2 separate regions of the Homo sapiens genome follow, and region 2 is linked to region 1. Evidence: fine-mapped expression QTL. A gene starts in region 1. The other region holds a variant in brackets. All regions are shown on one strand. Distances are from middle to middle.

Region 1 (3,010 bases):
TATTATTCACTGAAAGAGTTTCCTGGAGGGAAAACTTCCAATTCCAATTAAATCGAGGATGACGACGGCCCGGATTTGGCAGTCCTGCAGCTGTCACTAGCTCGGGACCTCGTGCGTCTGAGTGATCCAGCCCGGGCCGCGCCCTCACCCAGAGCCAAGGCTGTGAGAGCAGCTCCAGCGAGGGGGCAGGGTGGCGGCGGCAGGGCTGCTTCAGGGCCGGTGCCGGTGTCCTCAGAGCGGCGTTTTGGCACTGGGGTGGGCCGGGGCGTGGCTTTCGGCGCCACCTCTGCAAGCGGCCGCCACTCCAGAGTGGCGCAGGTAGGGGGCGTGGGAAGACCTAAGTATATTTATTCCGGCCTGCGAGCGGGATGCTGGGGTTGCTCCAAGGGACCAGAAGAGCTGCCCTGTGTCCCAGAGCAGGCTGGTTCTTCTGACAGCGCTGAGAACCTGGCGCTCGCGCCTGGCCAGGTAGGGGCTGTGACTGGACGCTCAGAACATTTGTGGGAGTGTGGAAATCTCTTTACGGGTGATGGGGCTCAAAGTCTGACGCAGCCGAGGGTTGATGGGGTGCAGTCACGCTCAGCCAGGGGACTTTGGGGGCGCAGTGTCAGGCTCAGCCAGGGAGTGACAGGCGCAGTACCAGCCTTATCTGGGGGTGCTGGAGGCACAGGCTCCGGTTCGGCCAGGCGGGTGTGCGCGCCCAGGAAGGGTAGGAGCCTGCAGCCGCAGCGGGGGGCGCTGGCTGGGGCTCTGCCCCGCCGGCAGTGCGCTCGGGCGCTGTTCCAGCGCGCGGCAGCGAGTGGCGCTGAGCCTCCGCTTTCGCAGCTCGCGGGGAGCGGGGCCGGCGGGAGGGGCCGGGCGGGGCCACCGCCTCCTCTGATGGCAGGCTCCTCCTCTCCCTCCGCCTCCCTCGCTCTCCACCGCCCGCCCGCCCGCCCGCCCAATCCACAGTTCCCGGCCCAGCCGAGCCGGGCTGCTTGTCTGGCCGGCGGAGGCTGAGCGCGACCCTAGCAAGCCGCGGCGCCCGCCGACCAGGGACAAGAGCGACTCCTGGGACCCCACTCTGCCCCGCGCCGCCGCCTCCTCCCCTGTTGTCGCGGGGACGCTCAGGCCCGCGCCGCCCGGGCCACGATTCTCCTCCTCTTTCTCCCGGAGGGGAAGGAACGGAGAAAGCCGAGCGGCGGCTCCGGGAGAGAGCGAGCCGAGGCCCCTGCCCCCGAGGCTCGGGGCAGGAGGAGGAGGAGGAGGAGGAGGCGGAGGCGGAGGGAAGTGCGCGTCACTCTCGGGAGGAGAGTATTTCACCTCCAGGCAGAGGCTGCGGCTGCCAGTTGAGTACGAGCGGCAGCTGCGGGCGCCGGCAATCGAGTGGCTTCCTGGCCATGGAGAGGAGATCTGGACCCGAGGACGCCAGGGACTCCTCTCCGTCTCCCTGGACCGCTGTGTAGGCACCTGAGTTAACGGACGCTAAGCGGGGTAGGGGAAGGTAAGAAGCGACTCGGTCACCCGCCCCCCCACCCCGCTCCACCTCGTTTGCTGCCCTCGGGGGCCACTGCGGGGACGCAGACCCGGGTCTCGCCCACCTTTTCTGCTCCCGGCGGCCTGGCCGGCTCCGGCGTTGGGCATTTCTGCCGAAAAGGAAAACGTCCTCCCGCCCTTCCCCCGTGCGCCTCCTTTCCCGGTTTCATCTCTGGATTGGGACTGACCCGACTCCCCAGGAGTCAGTCCTCTCTTCTTAAGAAAGGGTCCTCGGGAACGGTGTCTTGATTTCTTTCTCTCCACTCTCTCTTTTCATTACGTTTACGGGGAAGGGAACAATGGACCTTTCAAAGTCGGTGCGAACAGCCTTAAACTTTCTGGAGAGGGATGGGGTGAGGGGATAAACCCCACAGTAAGCCGATTACAGTGAAAGGTTGATGGAATGTGCTTTGCAGTCCGGGCTTCAGTGCGCGCGCGCTTGTGCGTTTGGGGTCATCTTTGTCTCCTTACAATTCCCCTGGGTTGGTGGGTCCTCCGCCCTCCGCCCCCTGCCTCTCTGTTAGCTGAGGTAAGGTGAGGCTTTAAAATCGTGTACAGCTTCCTTTAAATCTGGGGAATAGCCTTAGCCCTGGACCCTATTCCCAGCTTTTCTCTGCAGAGTTGGGAGATCCTGGTAAAGGAGGGGGGCCCTCTCTGTGAGGACCCAGAGTGCTGCTGTTAATAGCACTAGTGGCTACACCCTTAGCGATAAAACCAAGGTCCTGAATTCCCTGGATGCTCTCTGCTGAGGGTTGATGAGTGTCACCAGACTTCGACCTGGAGCGGAAACAGCTCACTTGAATTCTCCGCAGGTTAGGAAAACAGACTTTGATATATATCTCCTTTTATCAGCAGTTGGGATTAAGGATAGACTGCCTAATAATTTTTAAAACTTTCATTGTGCACATGAGCTACTCACTGCCTTGAGTTCACTCCCCTTGATTCAGTGTGACAGAGTGATGCGCTGCTGCACAGTTGCATGTATTGAGATGTGCTGCTCTTCCCGGTAAAAAGTGAGAAGAATTTAGAGAGAGGGGAAAGGGTAGAGGCTTCACCTGAGCTGAGGGAGGCCTGACTCCCCAGAGCAGCCAGGCAAATCTGTTGGAAATGGCTCAGTGTTAAAAAAACACCTTTAAAATGGTTAGCCTTATCTTTCTTTGGTTGGCTAGAATGGAGCTACTAATGCTTATTTGACCCTTGAAGGACGCTTGTTCTTTTCAGAATTGGTCTGGGTATCATACTGTGGTTGTGGGTCTGATTACCTATACAAAGGGTTCTTTTTAGTTTGCATTTCTGGGCAAAGCAGAAGAATGTGTAGTAGGCATGTCCTCTGCTTAGTAAACATTGGGTAGCACTTTAGAGTGCTTTTCTCTTCACACCGAAATGACTTCCCCCAGCTTCTGTGTACCTGCATTAGAGGATCAGTTTGGGCGGAACTGGAAATCTGTCTTCTGGCTTTCTGTTCAGTCCTCCTGACGCTGTTTTTTTCTGATGT
Region 2 (2,500 bases), 85 kb after region 1:
GGGGAGAAAAGAAAGCGTTTGAAATTATTGCTTGGATACCAGCTTCATGCACCTTCTAGTTGTACAAAATGTTAAAGACGTTGTTTGTATTTGTAAGGCTGGTGTATTCAGAGAGCAGATCTCTTATTCCTCACTTTCCACCCCCGTATTTTGTAATGACCATGAGCAATGTTTTTACTTTTTGTATAATGGGGTGGGGTGGAGTGGGGGCTTCTGAGAGTCAGCCTGAGGTCTTTAGAGGACCAGCTATTGTAGCACCTTGGATACTTGAAGTTTAATGCTCAGTTGGGTCGGGTGGCAGTTGACTTGGTGGCTGGCATGTTCAGCAGTGCCTGGGGCCCTGTTTCTGGGCAGCCTTTGAGGATTTTCTATGATATTGAATGACAGTTTTAAGTGGCAACTCAGGCCCAGCTCATGCCCTTTTTTGCCTGGACATGTGCTATTTTTATTCACTTATATATCAATTACTTGTAAGGGTTAAACTTTCAAACAGGAAGTATATTGGGACAAAAGGGCTCTTGGGGATTAGATATCCCTTTAATCTGTGACCATTGGGCAAAAAATTTTCCTGCAGCAAAAGTCTGAGGCTGTTGGGACCATTTTTGCAGCTTTAATCCTTAGCCTCTTTTGACTGTATATTTGTGTTTAAAATGCAGAGCTCAACTGAATATTTCCTTTTTTGTTTTGTTTTGTTTTGTTTTAAGAAGTAGGTTGTTTTCCTGAACCGTAAACTTGTATCATTTTAACTTGCACAAAGGAAGTCTGTTCTTGGTATTGCTCTTGCACTTGGGTTTTTTGTTATTGTTTTGTGTGGATTTTTTAAAGCTTTTCTGTTCACCCTCCTGCCAGGAAAATCCCAGAAAGCTTAATGATACCCCAAAATGATTACACCCAGGGAGGAAAAAAAGGAGCGCTTTCTAGGGTCAGAATCGTGGAGAGAATACTCAGAAATGAACCTCTTTAAAGCCTTGCAGGAATGAGTCACTCTTACTTAATGAAATGTTAAAGCCAATTAAAAAGCATGCTGTGATGCCCAGCTTCCCTTTCCACAGGGTGCATGCGTCTCCTGCTGGTGAATCACATGCGGCAAGAGGCAACTGGCTCCACAGCCTGGGATGCTGCCGTACCAAGAGGAAAGAAGCAGCAAAATGCCTTTACGTTGTTCTAAACCCCCGACGCATAAAGTGTAGAGGAGGGATGGCCAAGGGTGGGTGGTAGAAAGTGTGTTCAGGCTGACACTGGCAATGAGTACAGATAATTTCACTTTCCTCTTC[T/C]AGGGGCAAAGGCTGATGGCCTCTACCTTTGTATCCAGGAGAAACTGCAGAGCAGCCCTGTGACTTTACAAAATATGCTACCTCAAAGTGCTACCGATAAACCTTTCTAATTGTAAGTGCCCTTACTAAGGGCACATGTCTTAATCAAAGTTAGTTTTTTGTTTTCTGGTTTGTTTTTTTTTTTTGTATATTGATGAATGAGATCTTACCTATTAAATATATTATTGGATTATGGTTCCTGAAGGTCATTAGAGTGTGTGTGTGTGTGTGTGTGTGTGTGTGTGTTTTATGACTTAAATATCTTTACGTGTGTTTTTTAGAGCTTGGTTCTTTAAAGATTTGGAGAAGATATGTAAATTACCAAGGCACTTGGTTTTTCTGTTTTATATACTAATAATCAGGGCCTAAGTTAAATAAAAATATGTGTGCATGTATTTTATATATGTGTGTATGTGAATTTATTTATTATTTATTTTATTATTATTGTTATTATTTTTGAGATGGAGTCTCGCTCTGTCACCCAGGCTGGAGTGAGGTGATGCAGTCTCAGCTCGCTGCAACCTCCACCTCCCAGGTTCAAGTGATTCTCCTGCCTCAGCCTCCCAAGTAGCTGGGATTACAGGCACCCGCCACCATGCACTGCTAATTTTTGTATTTTTAGTAGAAGTGGGGTTTCACCGTGTTGGCCAGGCTGGTCTTGAACTCCTGACCTCAAGTGATACTCCTGCTTTGGCCTCCCAAAGTGCTAGCATTACAGGCATGAGCCACCGCGCCTGGCCTGTATGTGAATTTATATCTCTATCTATAAATTTAAAATTCCAGATTCCAGCTGTAAAGAAGTTACTGACGGAAGTGAGGAAGACACTTGGTGGACAGAATCCACCAAGTAAATATTGTAAGAGTAAGCTTCAGAAGGGCAGGGACTGTATTCTCCAAGGCAGAGGTTCTCCATCTTGGCTGCACACTGGAATTACCTGAGGAGCTTTAAAAAAAAATATAGAGGCCTGGACTTTACTCCCTTCCCCCCAGATTCAGATTTAATTGGTGTTGGGTGCAGCCTGAGCACTGGAATTTTTTTTAAAGCTCCCTGGATGATTCTAATATGCAGCCAGGTTTCGGAACCACGGCACTAATATAATAGGCCCACTGTTTAACTCCAGTCTGTAATTTTTTTGTGACTAAAACAAAATTGCATTTACCTATTATTTTTATTTGCATTTCCTATA

The links.
Region 2: its variant is fine-mapped to the expression of CEMIP2 in whole blood (INTERVAL, PIP 0.99).

What each region holds. Positions count from the first base shown.
Region 1 is chr9:71,766,830-71,769,839 of GRCh38, reverse strand. It overlaps CEMIP2 (cell migration inducing hyaluronidase 2), which reads left to right and starts at 1,327. Exons shown (of 24, transcript NM_013390.3): 1 at 1,327-1,483. RefSeq lists enhancers at 306-987, 988-1,669 and a silencer at 563-1,232.
Region 2 is chr9:71,682,579-71,685,078 of GRCh38, reverse strand. CEMIP2 (cell migration inducing hyaluronidase 2) reads left to right here. Exons shown (of 24, transcript NM_013390.3): 24 at 1-1,713. Among named protein-coding and RNA genes, the nearest start is that of CEMIP2, 85 kb to the left of the region's middle. The variant T/C (reference allele first, on the strand shown) is at 1,275.